2 separate regions of the Homo sapiens genome follow, and region 1 is linked to region 2. A link means that fine-mapping ties the variant in region 2 to the expression of a gene that starts in the linked region. Tissue or cell type: whole blood. Region 2 holds a variant in brackets; the other region holds the start of a gene. All regions are shown on one strand. Distances are from middle to middle.

Evidence for each region. PIP is the estimated chance that this variant, and not a neighbour inherited with it, causes the effect.
Region 1: TEN1 starts here. The variant in region 2 is fine-mapped to the expression of TEN1 in whole blood (TOPMed, PIP above 0.99). The same link has a PIP of 0.9 or more in blood mononuclear cells and lung.

What each region holds. Positions count from the first base shown.
Region 1 is chr17:75,975,616-75,983,615 of GRCh38, reverse strand. TEN1 (TEN1 subunit of CST complex) reads right to left here and starts at 4,376. Exons shown (of 4, transcript NM_001113324.3): 1 at 4,105-4,376. ACOX1 (acyl-CoA oxidase 1) reads left to right here and starts at 4,450. Exons shown (of 14, transcript NM_004035.7): 1 at 4,450-4,651; 2 at 4,923-5,082. The coding sequence starts at 4,543. TEN1-CDK3 (TEN1-CDK3 readthrough (NMD candidate)) reads right to left here and starts at 4,399. Exons shown (of 10, transcript NR_037709.1): 1 at 4,105-4,399. RefSeq lists enhancers at 1-224, 3,888-3,987, 4,109-4,692, 4,558-4,787, 4,693-5,276 and a silencer at 4,408-4,477.
Region 2 is chr17:75,998,156-76,006,155 of GRCh38, reverse strand. TEN1 (TEN1 subunit of CST complex) reads right to left here. Exons shown (of 4, transcript NM_001113324.3): 4 at 5,570-6,015. The coding sequence ends at 5,894. CDK3 (cyclin dependent kinase 3) reads right to left here and starts at 5,301. Exons shown (of 8, transcript NM_001258.4): 1 at 5,189-5,301; 2 at 4,615-4,744; 3 at 4,205-4,282; 4 at 4,014-4,134; 5 at 3,738-3,908; 6 at 3,544-3,645; 7 at 2,758-2,961; 8 at 158-858. The coding sequence starts at 4,730. The coding sequence ends at 733. TEN1-CDK3 (TEN1-CDK3 readthrough (NMD candidate)) reads right to left here. Exons shown (of 10, transcript NR_037709.1): 4 at 4,615-6,015; 5 at 4,205-4,282; 6 at 4,014-4,134; 7 at 3,738-3,908; 8 at 3,544-3,645; 9 at 2,758-2,961; 10 at 157-858. It overlaps LOC124904061 (a long non-coding RNA gene), which reads left to right and starts at 5,596. Exons shown (of 2, transcript XR_007065911.1): 1 at 5,596-6,351; 2 at 6,520-7,484. RefSeq lists silencers at 954-1,248, 2,862-3,062, 5,415-5,494 and an enhancer at 5,625-5,674. The variant C/T (reference allele first, on the strand shown) is at 4,763.

The DNA.
Region 1 (8,000 bases), 23 kb after region 2:
AGTCTTTCTTGACTGTAATGCCATGCTCTCCATGAAATGATTTCGTTTGTGCTGTGGGAACCCATCAGGTGGTTATAGAGGTGGCATAGGCTATGAAAACACTGGTTGTCTAAAACAGGGGGAGATAACAATTATGAAGGGCTAGTGTACACGAGTGTGTGCTCACTAACATGAGGGGACTAAAGGAGTGTCCCCACTAGATGTTCCTGTTTTTCTGGTGGATCTGGGGAAAAAGAGGTGGGGAGGATGCTGGGGTTGCTATGCAATTCTCACCGAGGGAGGAATTTGCTGGTATAATGATTATACATTTTTCTTTCTTTCTTTCTTTCTTTTTTGAGATGGAGTCTCGCTCTGTCTGCCAGGCTGGAGTGCAGTGGCGGGATCTCGGCTCACTGTAACCACTGCCTCCCGGGTTCAAGCGATTTTCCTGCCTCAGCCTCCTGAGTAGCTGGGAATACAGGCGTGTGCCACCATGCCCGGCTAATTTTTGTATTTTTAGTAGAGACGGGGTTTCACCATGTTGGCCAGGCTGGTCATGAACTTCTGACCTCAGGTGATCCACCCACCTCGGCCTCCCAGAGTGTTGGGACTACAGGCGTGAGACACCTCACCGGGCCTCTTCCTTTTTTCTTTCTTTTTTTTTTTTTTGAGCCAAGGCGGGCAGATCACTTGAGGTCAGGAGTTCGAGACTAGCCTGGCCAATGTGGTGACACCCCGTCTCTACTAAAAATACAAAAATTAGCCAGGCATGATGGCGGGTGCCTGTAATCCCAGCTACAGGGAAGGCTAAGGCAGCAGAATTGCTTGAACCCGGGAGGCGGAGGCTGCAGTGAGCCGAGATCATGCCACTGCACTCCAGCCTGGGCGACAGAGTGAGACTCTGCCTGAAAAAATAATAAATAAATAAATAAATAAAACTATGATCAATGCTTGAGCCTAAGAGTTTGAGGCTGCAGTGAACTATGGTTGCGCCACTGCATTCTAGTCTGGGTGACAGAGCAAGGCCTTGTCTCAAACAAAACAAAACAAAGCAAAACTATGATCAAATACATGTGTATGCCTTTTCTCCTATTAATCACTTGTGTGGTATTCCTGCCAAAAATGCATCATCTGAATCTAATCATGAAGAAATATCAGACAAATCTGAATTAAGGGACATTCTACTGTAGGTGCCAAGGGGCCCTCTGAAGTTTCGCTGCAAAAAATCAACTTACAAAAGGCAGAGTAATAGTCAAAAATGTGTACAAATTTATGTAACATGTACATATGGGAGCCTTCAGAAGGAAGACCCAAAGATACAGGGGAAATTGTACATTTTTATGCAAATGATTGAACATAAAAGGTATGATCTAATGCTGATAGACTGAGTGGGGAGGCCCAGCAAGGCCTGTCTGTCTAGATTCTTCTTGGCCTCTTGGAACAGGCATTCCTTCCTTCTGGGTGTGGGGGAGGACCCTCTCTGGAATGGAGTCTTATGGCCTACAGTCAAACAAGCTAGGTCAGATAATTTCTTTTTGGCCAGTTTTTACACCAAAAGAAGGAGGGAAAGTTAAGAGTAATATATTTAGGGTTTTTTTTGTTTGTTTTTTGAGACAGAGTCTCACTCTGTCGCCCAGGCTGGAATGCAGTGGTGCAATCTCGGCTCACTGCAACCTCTGCCTCCCCGGTTCAAGCGATTCTCCTGCCTCAGACTCCCGAGTAGCCGGGACTACAGGCACATGGCACCTCGCTCGGCTTTTTTTGTATTTTTAGTAGAGACGGGGTTTCACCGTGTTAGCCAGGATGGTCTCGATCTCCTGACCTCGCTATCCACCTGCCTTGGCCTCCCAAAGTGCCAGGATTATAGGCGTGAGCCACCGCACCCAGCTTATATTTAGGGTTTTATGGCTGGCTTTGGGGGTAAATGACTCTGTTTTCTATGACCTGCCTTGGGGAAGAGGATTCTAACTTCTCTGGCTAGGCTCGGGGGAGAATGCACCTGAGGGAGAGGAGGACAGAAGGTAAAAAAAAAAAAAAAAACAACTTGCTTTGTGGGTTGCTTCTGAGGCCTTCATTTTGGGGTATTGTTTTCTGAGACCCAACACTACAAAACAATGGGCTTATACACTTCAAAAGTGTTAATGTCAGCCAGCCAGGCGCAGTGGCTCACGCCTGTAATCTCAGCACTTTGGAAGGCTGAGGCGAGCGGATCACATGAGGCCAGGAGTTGGAGACCAGCCTGGTCAACATAGTGAAACCCTGCCTCTAATAAAGACACAAAAATTAGCCAAGTGTGGTAGTACATTCCTGTAGTCCCAGCTACTCTGGAGGCTGAGGCATGAGAATCATTTGAACCCAGGAGGCGGAGGTTGCAGTGAGCTGAAATCATGCAACTGCACTCCAGCCTGGGTGACAGAGGAAGACATCATCTCAAAAGAAAAAAAAAAAGCGTTAAAGTCACAGAAGAAAAGTTCTTTGTTCTATTCTTGTAATTCTCGTGTAAATTTGAAATTATTTCAAAATAAAAACTCAGCAAATTTAGCTCTTCATCTAAGTCTTTTCTATTCAATGCTAAGTACACCCCTTATCATTGTTACATTAAGAGCAATTGGTTTCCTAGAATATTAGAACTAGAAGGTCAGCTGTCAAGCAGCCATTTGTTCACTCCACAAAGATTTCCTGAGCACCTTTAGCGGGGCAGGCACTGTGCCAGGTACAGAGAATAAACTAGACACCCTCTCTGCTGTTGAAGGGGCCTGAGATCAGCAGCTTAATAAGACAAATGAGGATCCTGAGGTCCTAGGGGTTAAGAGTGTGTATTATAGTTCTATTATTCAAATTATGAATGTTATGCATCTCTCGTAGTTTTACTTCTGAGAAAACCAAAGTCATAGTATTACACAGACTACAGACAGGCTAGGCGCAGCGGCTCACGCCTGTAATCCCGGCGCTTTGGGAGGCCGAGGCAGGTGGATCAACAGGTCAGGAATTCGAGACCAGCCTGGCCAACATGGCAAAATCCTGTCTCTACTAAAAATACAATTAGCTGGGTGTGGTGGCGAGCCCCTATAATCCCAGCTACTCGGGAGGCTGAGATAGGAGAATCGCTTGAACCCAGGGGGTGGAGGTTGCAATGAGCTGAGATCATACCACCACACTGCAGCCTGGGCGACAGAGCGAGACTCCGTCTCAAGAAAAAAAAAAAAAATGACTAGAGATGATTCAACAAATCCCTGAATCTCCCTTGTCTACAATCCCACTGGGCAGAACTGTTTTTGTTTTTTGTTTTTTTTCTGTAGAGACAGGGTCTCACTATGTTGCCCAGGATGGAGTGCAATGTCACAATCTTGGCTCACCGCAACCTCCACCTCCGGGGCTCAAGCCACCATCCCATCTCAGCCTTCAGAGTAGCTGGGACTACAGGCGCATGCCACTACACCCAGCTAATTTTTTGGTATTTTTTGTAGGGATGGGGTTTTGCCATGTTGCCCAGGCTGGTCTTGAACTCCTGGGCTCAAGTGATACGCCCGCCTCGTCCTCCCAAAGTGCTGGGATTCCAGGCGTGAGCCACCGCGCCCGGCCCTACACTAGGTTTTAACAGTAAGTGTGCATTTCCCACTTTGATGACGGTGATGGCGAAAGCAAAGAAGTCTGGATTCCAAGACCTCTAGTAACTGCCAGGTTGCGGGGGAAAATGTCTGGTTTCCCAGACAGAAGGCTTAGAGCAGCACCGCCCGCTTGGTCTCATTCTAAGTCCCCGTCCACCCCTTGAACAGCGCTCACAATCCCACACCCAGGGCCCCGGAACCCACGCCTCTGCCAGTAAAGACGCCATTATCTTAACAAAAGGTAACTGGAGCCTCTCCCCAAAGAGACTGGTTCCCGTCCCATTCTTCTCCAATCCGGGTGGATTTGGCAAAAGCCCAAGTGACCCTCCCTAGCAATTCCGCAAAGCCCCATCTCCCGCCCCAGACTCCAGAGTCTCCCGACCACTCTCATTTCGGAGAGGCCTAGGGGCACGGACCCGGAAGCGTGACAGAGGCCGCGGGGTAAGAGGGGGGCAAGTGCAGGCGCAATCCCTCCTCAGCCTCGTTGTCCCGCCCCCTTCCCAAGGCCCCAGCCAACCTGTTCTAGGCGTCGCCGGTCCTCGGATTTCTTCTTTCCGCCTCGCGTGGTCACGTGACGGGGGAGGGGCGGGATACAAAAAGTGCTTTATTTTCCCACTCCCCGGACGCCCAGCAGGGCAGTTTCTTGACCTTCGGAGCCCCTTTCCCGAGGATCCGCTCGGGAGCCTCCCCTGGCCAGGAGCAGGGGATTAGTCTGCCCCGCGACCGGCCCCAGCCACGACGCGGACATCGCCCCCTCTGTCTGGGCCGCTGTCACTCACGCGCCAAAGGGCCACGGAGAAAGAAGGGGCGGGCCGGGGCGGGCCGGGCGAGCGGAGGCGGGGACTTGCGCCGTCCTGAGGCTGCCTCCTAGGGTCCGGCCGGCGCTGGAGCTGCGGATTTAGATTGTCACTGCCACCTCGGTCGGTGCTTACTTCGCTGCCAGCTGGTCGTCGCCATGAACCCGGACCTGCGCAGGGAGCGGGATTCCGCCAGCTTCAACCCGGAGCTGCTTACACACATCCTGGACGGCAGCCCCGAGAAAACCCGGCGCCGCCGAGAGATCGGTGAGGGCGGCGGGCGAGACCTCCCTCCTTTCCCGAGAAAAGCTGGAGACTCCCTCGATGCGGAGTCAGGGGCGCTGTGGGGCCTAGGCCCTCTGGCCCAGCGTTAGGGGAGCCGGGACCCCCACTTCGAGGAACAGCCTGTGTCCCTGGTGGGGGGATATCGCCATTCCCCAGGTGTGTCCGCGACTCTGAAGCCTATTGTGATTCAGGGAGGGTGGAACGGAGGCCCGAGTGTCTGTCTGCCTTTTAATGCCCTTTAACCCCCTTTCAGAGAACATGATCCTGAACGACCCAGACTTCCAGCATGAGGACTTGAACTTCCTCACTCGCAGCCAGCGTTATGAGGTGGCTGTCAGGAAAAGTGCCATCATGGTGAAGAAGATGAGGGAGTTTGGCATCGCTGACCCTGATGAAATTATGTGGTTTAAAAAGTAGGTATGCCTTAGAACAGAGCAAGTGTTGTTAAGCCTAAACTTTACAGCTGCGGTCTATGGTGGCCTTTCATCACCGTGCTTGGTGTTTGAAGATGCAAACTGGCATATTTTCATGCAACTTTATAAAGTTATATGTGTGGCCGGGCGCGGTGGCTCACGCCTGTAATCCCAGCACTTTGGGAGGCCGAGGCGGGCGGATCACCAAGTCAGGAGATCGAGACCATTCTGGCTAACACGGTGAAACCCCATCTCTACTGAAAATACAAAAATTAGCCGGGCGTGGTGGCGGGCGCCTGTAGTTCCAGCTACTCGGGAGGCTGAGGCAGGAGAATAGCGTGAACTAGGGAGGCGGAGCTTGCAGTGAGCCGAGATCGCGCCACTGCACTCCAGCCTGGGCAAGAGTGCGAGACTCCATCTCAAAAAATAAATAAATAAATAAATAAATAAAGTTATATGTGTGAAAAATAATGTGATCACTTTTGTATCCAAGCCTTTTCGTGGGATGACGTGTTTGTAGAATGCTGATAATAAATGGAAATGCAGGAGTTTTTGTTCTCAAGAGTACAGTTTCAAGGATGTTGTAAAAGCATTGTTCTGCCCAAGCAACTCAAATTTGACTGATTTAAATGCAGAATCATTTTGCTCTTTGTAAGGAGGACTGCTAAAATTCTGAATCTGGGAGCATTTTTTTTTTTAGTTGCACGACCATTTAAATATTTTGGAGCAATAGCAGATTATATTATATGGTAGTGTGGACCTGGATGAAGAATGATCTGTGACGCCTCTGAATGAATAGAAAGTCTAAGAACCCAGTAGTTCTGAATCCATGACAGTGCTTGAATGGTTGTCTTGTGCATATGAGAGAGACGTCATAAAAACCTGCCTTGGTTCTAGTGTGGAAGAGAGTATATCCTTTTTTCAGACCATGTGTTTTGTTGTGTTTTTTGTTTTTGTTTTTGTTTTTTGAGACGGAGTCTCGCTCTGTCGCCCAGGCTGCAGTGCAGTGGCACGATCTCGGCTCACTCCAGCCTCCACCTCCCGGATTCAAGCGATTCTCCTGCTTCAGCCTCCTGAGTAGCTGGGATTACAGGCGCCCGCCACCACACCCGGCTAATTTTTGTATTTTTAGTAGAGATGGGGTTTCGCCATGTTGCCAGGCTGGTCTCAAACTCCTCACCTCGTGATCCACCCTGCTCCACAAGGAACGGTAAAAATAAATAAAAATAAGGACTTCGGGCCGGGCACAGTGGCTCATGCCTGTAATCTCAGCACTTTGGGAAGCCAAGGCAGGTGGATCACTTGAGGCCAGGAGCTCGAGACCAGCCTGGCCAAAATGGTGAAACTCTCTCTACTAAAAATACAAAAATTAGCCGGGCCTGGTGGTGCGCTTCTGGGGTCCCAGCTATTCAGGAGGCTGAGGCAGGAGAATCCCTTGAACCTGGGAGGCAAAGGCTGCACTGAGCCGAGATCACGCCACTGCACTCCAGACTGGGCAACAAAGAGAGACTCTGTCTCAAAAAAAAAAAAAAAAAAAAAAAAGACTTTTTTGCCTTAACCTAAACAAACACTATTACATGATCCTAGTACAAGATTATTTTGGCCTATAGCATTTTTTTCTCATTTATTCCTGGGCATTTTCTCTTTTAGGTTTCTCCATTTTAAAGGAACTCCAGTATTTTCATCGGTAAAGACTAAATCGTATGAGTGGTGTATAGACTAGAACCAAGCTAAATAGAACATGTTGCACGTTCTGCCTTTATGGTAATAATGGTCACTGCCTCTAGTGCCTTTGGTATCGATTTTCAGCTTGACTTGGGTTATTTTTGTGAAGATGAAATGGTTTACTCTGGCACTTTGGACTTTCCTCAGAGCTCCACTCAGTTTTAAACGAAAAAATTTTGTTTATTTATTTTTGGTAGTTCAAATCAGCATACTTCCAAATGGTCTGTTTTGTTTTTGAAGTTTGTAACTCATGGCTGTGGGGATATTGAGATAGAGTAACTCCTCCTAGAAGATTATGTTACTGATACCTGTGTTGTGTTTGTAAATTTGAAAAAATTAGTAAGATTTTATTCCTTCTTGAAACGTCAGGAAAAAAGTGGGTTGAGTGTGTGTGTGTGTGTTTGAATGGGTGGTGCAGTGCATTTCAAAGCTGATAGAGATGATTTCATAACCTGTGACCTGTTGATAATGTGAACCAGACTCGAGTGAGGTCACAATGAAATAGAACAAAGTCTTTTATGCGGGTTAAAGATTCATGGACACCGGGAAGTTGTTTTGTGTATCATTTTTCATGTGAAGTATTAAAGTACAAACTTTAACACACCCTTTGACACACTTCCAATGTCCTTAGGATATGACAAGGAGATCAGTTTTTAAGTAAGAGAAGGGGTTTGTAAATGAGTCCTGGAAATTATCGCATGCTATCGAGTTAAAGCCTCGGTTATATAATCTCATCGATTATAACTCACACCAGTGTTTTGTGTACCACTAAGAAAGAAAGAATGCTGCCAGTTAACCGTGACATGCTATTAATTGTGAAATACATCACCTTTCTTTCTTTTCTTTTCTTTCTTTCTTTCTTTTCTTTTCTTTCTTTTCCTTTCTTTTTCTTTCTCTTTCTCTTCCTCTTTCTTTTTCTTTCTCTCTCTTTCTTTCTCTCTCTCTCTCTCTCTCTGCATTTCCATTTATTTCCATTATCAGCAGGTGAAGAGGCATCTGCCACCTCACCCAGCTAACTTTTGTATTTTTAGTAGAAATGGGGTTTCACCATGTTGGCCAGGCTGGTCTCGAACTCCTGGCCTTGTGATCCACCCGCCCCTTCCTCCCAAAATGCTGGGATTACAGGCATAAGCCACTGCGCCTGGCTGAGAAAACATTTTTAACTGATGTTAATGAGCAGCTTCTAAACACAT
Region 2 (8,000 bases):
AAAAAAAAAAAATCATGGACTAGCCCCTGTCTCCCCACCTACTCCTTGCCCATTTCCCCACTGTCTCAGTTTGGGCCAGAGCTGTCTCCAGCCCTGTGTCAATGTTCCCCTTGTCAGGAAGCCCAGGTGTCCCCTGTGAGCAGAACAATCAGAAAACTCAGGAACATACCACGTTTATTTATTGTTGTCAAGCCAGAAATGAACCAAAAGAAGCACATCTCAGGTGAAGGAACAACTCCTTATTGCAGTCATAGCCCAGCTCTCCTGGGATCCGGGGAACGCCCTCTCTCCTCTCCCTCACTCCCTCCTGTTTAACTTGGGACTGAACTGGAACTCAACTCTTCCCCCAAACATTTTAAATCCAAAAAGACCAGCAGGGGGCGCCCTTTCCTCAGGGTCTGGCCCTGCAGGCAGGGCAGGTGAGGGCCTGAATACCCACACCCAGCTCTGGCAGGCCCCCTGCCTTCAACTTGGCACTTGTTCCAGTGCCCGGGGACCCCTCGTGCATGGAGCATCTGTGCCTCTATTTTGAAACGGCACCGTCCAACCCAAAAAACAACACAGGATCTCGCTAACCTGCGGGCAGGACTAACCCAGACTCAGCCCTCTGCAGGCTGATGCTGAATTCCTTAGTGCTTTGCTCTCCCCAGATGCATCCTCTCTTGGCAATGGGTAGGAGGCAGCTGGGGCAGCAGCTGCTCGAGAAAGGATCTGAGTGTGGCCTTGACATTCTCAATGGCGGAATCGCTGCAGCACATACTGGCGGGCAGCTGGGGAGGGCTCAGGGGATGAGAAGTACGGGTGGGCCAGGGCAGTCTTGGCTGTGATCCGCTGGCTGGGGTCATACTGCAGGAGTTGCTAGGAAGAAAGAAGGAAGAAGATGTGGTCTGGGTGCAGCCAGGGTGGGGTGAGAAATTCCCCTCCCAGGTCCCAGATCAAGGGCCTGGGCCCCAAATTGGCTGCCCTCAAACCCAGAACCGCATGAAGCCATGACCTCCCAGCTCTCCAGCCAGTTCCGGACACTCCTGGAATCTGGACAGTCCTAACGAGTCACCCAGGTCTCCTCAGGCCACTGAAGCTGAGTCACCCCCCTTCTCGGGGAGGGTCCCAGGTCCCAGCCTGCTTCTAGTTGGGAAGAGCACAGAACCCCACGTATCAGGAAGCAGGGGACTGAAGCTGTCCAGGGAGGAACACTGAGTGGGGGCTCAGGGACTGACACTCCAAGAGGCCAAACCTGTCCAGCCCTCTGCCCTAGAGTCCCTAAACCCAGACAGGATGTGGAAGGACCCCCTGTGGTGGAGTAGCCCAGCTGGAGGGCTCGGGGCCTTGGCTGGAGTCTGTGCCGTCCTGCTGCCATTGGGCGGGTACACAACACACAGAGACTTCTGGAGAGCTGGACACACAGCCTGAAGATGAAAATACTGACCCACCTTCCTCTCATTCAACACCAGATTAAGGAGAGAAATGTGGCTCCAAGACTTTGTGGGCAAGAATGGACAGTGGACGGGCGCAGTGGCTCACACCTGTGATCCCCCCAGCACTTTGAGAGGCCAAGGTAGGAGGATCGCTTGAGCCCAGGAGTTCGAGACCAGTCTGAGCAACATAGTGAGACCCCATTTCTACAAAAATAAAATTAGCTGGGCATGGTGGTGCACCCCTATAGTCTCAGCTACTCAGGAAGCTGAGGTGGGAGGATCAATTGAGCCCAGGAGTTCGAGACCAGCCTGGGCAACGTGGTGAAATGCTGTCTCTACAAAAAAAATACAAAAGGTAGCCAGGCATAGTGGCGTATACCTGTGGTCCCAGCTACTCAGGAGGCTGAGATGGGAGGATCGCTTGTGCCTGGGAGGTCAAGGCTGCAGTAAGTCATGGTCACACCACTGCACGCCAGCCTGAGTGACAGACTGAGACCCTGTCTCAAAAAAAAAAAAAAAAACAGACGGTTCTGCCAGAGACTTCCTGGGCAGTCCGGCCTGGGTCAGCTCAAGACACCAACAGGAGGGGTGAGTGAGAACTGTGGCATGGGCCCAGGCAGTAGGGAACAGCCTGTTCTGAAGACTGACCACTGTAGGAGTCACAGGGGAACAGCCAGGCAGTAGAACGAGAGGCCCCAGCCGGGCACAGTGGCTCATGCCTGTAATCCCAGCACTTTGGGAAGCCGAGGTGGGCAGATCACCTGAGGAGTTCAAGACCAGTCTGGCCAACATGGTGAAACCCTGTCTCTACTAAAAAAAAAAATACAAAAATTAGCTGGGCGTGGTGGCAGGCACCTGTAGTCCCAGCTACTCGGGAGGCTGAGGCAGGAGAATGACTTGAACCCAGGAGGCAGAAGTTGCAGTGAGCTGAGATCACGCCATTGCACTCCAGCCCGGGCAACAAGAGCAAAACTCCATCTCAAAAAAAAGAAAAGAAAAGAAGGTATGGCCCCAGCCTGGGGAGGCATACAGCTTAGATGGAGCAGTAATGTCCACAAAGTAGAATAACCAAACACACAAGACAACTAGGGAAAAAGGGCGTGTAGCACAGCATAAAGACAGAGCTAACTCAATGAGCGCCACTTTCACAGGGAAGATAAATACTGCACTTATCCTGGGGGAGGCTTCCGGGTTGAACAATCAGTATACCCAAGCCAGTTGTGTACAAAGGTCAGGAAAGAGACCCTGGCCTTGGACTCAGAAAGTGCCAGGGTTATGTAAGAGGCTGGCTGATGAGGGGAAACTGTAGTCGGAGCAGCAGCTGGAGCCCACATGCACCTACCATGAGCAGGTCCCTGCCCTCTGGCTCCAGATTGGGCACAATCTCTTCCAGTCCCTTCCTGGTCCACTTAGGGAAGCTGCCCTTATAGTCAGGCAGCTGGGTGACCCCGGGCCATGTGTCTTCGCTGGGTGTCCCCAGCATACGAAAGATACGAAAGAGCTGGTCAATCTCAGAGTCACCAGGAAACAGGGCTTTTCGAGTCACCTGAAATGGGGAAGAAGAGAAGGTGTGGGGTCCGCCACTTTGTTATACAGAATCCAATACCAGATAAGTGGCCAGACCCAGGGAGAGGCCTGTCAAGATATCTTTTCCATGACTGTGCAAAGAATTCTGGCCTCTTTTGGAATAAAGCTACCTTCCTCAGTCCTTTAGCCAGTACCAAACACCTTTTTTTAAAAAATAGAGACGGAGTCTTGCTCTGTCACCCAGGCTAGAGTGCAGTCGTGCGATCACAGCTCACTGCAGCCTCAACCACAGGCTCAAGCAATCCTCCTGCCTCAACCTCCCAAGTAGCTGGGACTACAAGCATGCACCACCACACCCAGCTAATTTTTGTAGTTTTTTAAGAGCTGGGGATTTGTTACGTTGCCCAGGCTGGTCTCAAACTCCTGGGCTCAAGCCATCCTCCCATCTCAGCCTCCCAAAGTGCTGGGATTACGGGCGTGAGCCATGTCCAGCCCCAAACACTCTTTAATCCGCCTCGAATGGGAGCATCAGTGGACCCCACCCAACCCCAGTAGGACCCTGCCTGTGGCACCCTGTGGCCATGTGTGCCCCTCTCTCTACCATCTCTGCAAAGATGCAACCAATGCTCCAGATATCCACAGCTGTGGTATAGAACTTGCTGCCCAAGAGAATCTCGGGGGCGCGATACCACAGTGTCACCACCTGCAGGGCAAAGAAACAGTATCACTCAGGGTGGCTGAGTGCATGGGTGACACTCCTCCTGCTGCCCCTCTCTCCTCTTTGTCTCACAATACCTCATGGGTGTAGGTGCGCAGGGGCACCCCGAAGGCGCGAGCCAGGCCGAAGTCAGCCAGCTTGATGGCACCCAACTCATTGATGAGCAGGTTCTGGGGCTTCAGGTCTCGGTGGATGACCCGATGTGAGTGGCAGAAACTCACCCCCTGCAGCAGCTGGAAGAGGTAGCTCTGGAGAAACGAGCGCGAGGTGCAGCCAGCTGAGCGGAGGTGCTGCGTGGACAGGGATGGCAGGGATGGGGTGTCACCTCTCCTTCCCTGCCCTTCCTTCCCTACCTTGATGAGGTGCAGGGGGAGCTCTGAGCCTGGGGTGGAGTCCATGTACTTCTTCAGGTCCTGGCTGAGGAACTCAAACACCAGATAGAGCTTCCTCTCGTTGTGCACCACGTCCAGCAGTCTGACAGGGAGATGGCAGTCAGGATGCTACCTTCGCCATCCCAGCTTCCCCACCTCAATCCCCAACTCACCGGACGATGTTGGGGTGCTTCAGTTCCTTGAGCAGCGAGATCTCCCTGATGGCAGTGCTTGGGACCCCCTCCATCTCCCTGCAAGAAACAAGGGCACAGCCGTGGGCAGAGACTTGGGCCAAGAAGGGCACTTCCAGCCAGGGGGATCGGCTTCTCCTTAACCCCACAGAATGACCAGGGCCCCGGCAATGGAGACCTGTGCTCCTTGGCACGTCATCCACCAAACTCCACAGTCAGGGCCCCGGCAAAGGCTGGTCAGAAGGCAGTGAACTGGGGAGAGGACAGGTAAGGGCTGCTGGGCAGCACCCAGAGGAGTTAAACGTGGACTCCAGGAAAGAGGGAACGGATCAGGGAGCGCCCAGGTTGTGATGGCCCAGGGTGGGTAACTCAGGGGCCGTCCCAGCACTCACAAATCCAGTCTGATCTTCTTCAGGGCCACCAGCTGCCCTGTCTCCCTGTTCTTGGCCTTGTACACCACCCCATAGGTGCCCTCTCCGATCTTCTCTACCTTCTGGAACATATCCATGGCCACAGAGCTGCCTGGGAAACAGAAGGCAC[C/T]GGGCAATTTGCACCCCACGCCCAGCGCTCCCGTTGCTCCTCCAGCTTCCATGTGGCGCCCTGCCCAGCCCAGCCCAGCCCAGACTGCCCAGCTCCCAAGGCCCACGGCCTAGCCACCCCAACCCCAGCTCATCCTGCCTGGGAACCTGGCTGGGGGTCGGAAACCGCCCCTCACCCAGCCCAGCCCGGACCCCAAGGGGGTCAGGGGGCCCCCTTCACCCAGCCCAGTTCAGCCAGGACCCCCAGGCTTCTCGCCCATGCCCGGCCTCGGAGGGCAGGGCCCACACTCTCCCACCCAGCCCCCTGCCCATCCCAGCCAGAACCCCCAGGAAGTCAGAGACCACCCCTCGCCCAGCCCAGCCCAACATGGACCCCCAGGCCTCTCACTTGTGCCGGGCCTTAGAGGGCAAGACCACCCTTTCCCACCTGGGTCACTGCCCAGCCCAGCCAGTCCCAGGCTCTGGGTACACATGGCGGCCAGGAAGGGCTGCCCAGGGGCCAGGGCCACTGGGGGCAGAGGTCAGGGGTCAGGAGGGTCTTAAAGCCACAGTCCTGTCTTAGGCTGCACGGTCAGGGCCCAGGGCCTCAGCCCGGCCCGTGTGACGACGCTCAGCCTCCTCTGAAGGCAGAGCCTGGCCAGGGGCAGACCCCTGCATCCTGGGCCCCCCACCCCAGCCCCTGGGCCCCTGGTGCCCTACCCTGAGGCCCCAGGCCCAGAATTCACCAGAAGCCCTGAGAGGCTGCAGCCCACAGCCTGGGTTGCAGCTCCCCCTCCTGGCCCCCGCCGGCGCTGCACCACGAGCACACTTCAAGAGCACGCCCCCTGGGCCTTTATTCACCAGGACCTTCTGGAACCCTCCATGGCCCCACACCAAGCACGGCCCCGGCGCCCAAGCTCGGCCACCTGCAGTCTCCTGGGGTGGGGCTGTCGGATTTATGGCATGCTTTCTGGGTTCTCATTGCTGAGCCAATCCCAAAGTAGGGGAAGGGGCTGGATTCATCACCCGCCCCTCGGCTTTCGAGCTCCAGACAAGGCCGTCGCTGGGGAGGCGTCTGTGCTCTCCCGGGCTCCTGCAGCTCCAGAGGGTTCGGGCTCTGAAGCAGGTGAGGGTGTTGCTAGGCTGCTGTTTCCTACTGGCTGCCGCCCCGCTCCTGCTTGTACAGTCTCTGCTCCCGGATGGCTTGTTCCAACAAGGGCAGGTTCATCCCCTCCACACAGGTCAGCACGCGCGCCTTCACCACGGAGCCTCTGTCTGCAAGACAAACACCAGGGCACGAACGGCGACTGAGCGGCGTGTCAACAACGTCCTCCAAGGTGCATTCCAGCTGTTCCCTCCACAGCTCAGTCCTGGGTTTTGGCAGCAAGTGATGTGGACAATAACAGCATATGGGGCAAAGGCAACTGAGTATTTGGGCCTAGAACCGTGGGCCTGTCATGCACAGTCGGCCCGTGTCTGGAACTTAGCAGGTGGTCAGAAAACCCCTCTGGACTGAGGGAAAGGCCCCCTTGGCACCTTGGGACACAATGTCATCAGGAACCGGGGAAAAGAGACACCCATATTTTAAAAATCCAAGAGACTGAGCTCCCGGTAAGTTTGGCTTTATAGGAGCAGGTCATCCCACCCTGGACGAGGGGGGCTTCTAGCAGATGCGGTGGTGACCTGATACATAATGGAAAGGTTTGCCACTATTCAGGTGGCACCAAACAGGAAAGACATCTCCGAGAGACTTTTTAAAAATTTTCTTTCTTTTGACAGGTGAACTGGCTCACACCTGTAATCTCAGCACTTTGGGAGGCCAAGGCATGTGGAACACTTGAGGTCAGGAGTTCAAGACCAGCCTGGCCAACATGATGAAACCCCATCTCTACTAAAAATACAAAAATTAGCCGCGTGTAGTGGTGCATGCCTGTAATCCCAGCTACTTGGAAGGCTGAGGCAGGAGAATTGCTTGAACCCAGGAGGTGGAGGTTGCAGTGAGCCAAGATCACGCCACTGCACTCCAGCCTGGGCAACAGAGCAAGACTCCACCTAAAAAAAAAAATTTTTTTTTTGAGACAGGGTGTTGCTCTGTCACTTGGGCTGGAATGCAGTGGCTCAATCATGGCTCAATGTAGCCTCCACCTCCCAGGCTCAGGTGATCATCTCAGCTTCCTGAGGAGCTGGGACTACAGGGACGCACCACCACACCCAGCTAATTTTTGTATTTCTTGTAGAGATGGGGTCTCGCCATGTTGCCCAGGCTGGTTTCAAACTCCTGGGGTCAAGTGATCTGCCCGCCTCGGCCTCCCAACATGCATGGATTATAGGCGTGAGCCACTGTGCATTGCTGACATTTTTTTTTTCTTTCTTTTTTCCCCAGTCATAGCTTGCAAGAGAAAAAAAAAAGTTAAAAAAATTTTTTGCACTCATGCTCTTTCTGCTCTCTGAGCACTTTAATAAATAGATTTCCGAGATGGGTGGATCACCTGAGGTCAGGAGTTCATGACCAGCTTGGCCAACACGGCAAAACCCCGTCTCTACTAAAAATACAAAAATTAGCCAGGTGTGGTAGCTGGCACCTGTAAACCCAGCTACTCGGGAGGCTGAGGCAGGAGAATCGCTTGAACCTGGGAGGCAGACGTTGCAGTGAGCCGAGATCAAGCCACTGCACTCCAGCCTGGGCAACAGAGTGAGACTCTGTCTCAAAATAAGTAAATAAATAGATTCAATGTTCTAGGCTATTACATTGTTTTCTTTTGACGCTGTTTGAGATAAAGGCTCTGCCTGCCCTTTCCTCTAGTCTAGGTCATTTATAGCACAGCCTGAGGGCAGAATTCAGGGTGTCATCCTGCCTAGCTGTCTATACAGGCTACCCTTAGGCAATGAACTCATTTGAAACATGAGGTTGCCTGTGTGTCTCAGCTTCTGTTAGCCCCAGTGCTGACACAGGTCAGAGAGGAATCGGGGCGTGGCGCGGTGGCTCCCAACACTGTAATCCCAACACTTTGGGAGGGCAAGACAAGCAGATCACTTGAGGCCAGGAGCTCAAGACCAGCCTGGCCAACAAGCGAAAACCCTGTCTCTACTAAAAATACAAAAGTTACCCAGGCCCGACTACTTGGGAGGCTGAGGCACGAGAATCACTTGAACCGGGGAGGTGGATGTCGCAGTGAGCCAAGATTGCGCCACTGCACTCCAGCCTGGGAAACAGAATGAGACTCTGTCTCAAAAAAAAAAAAAAAAGGAAAAAAAAAGGA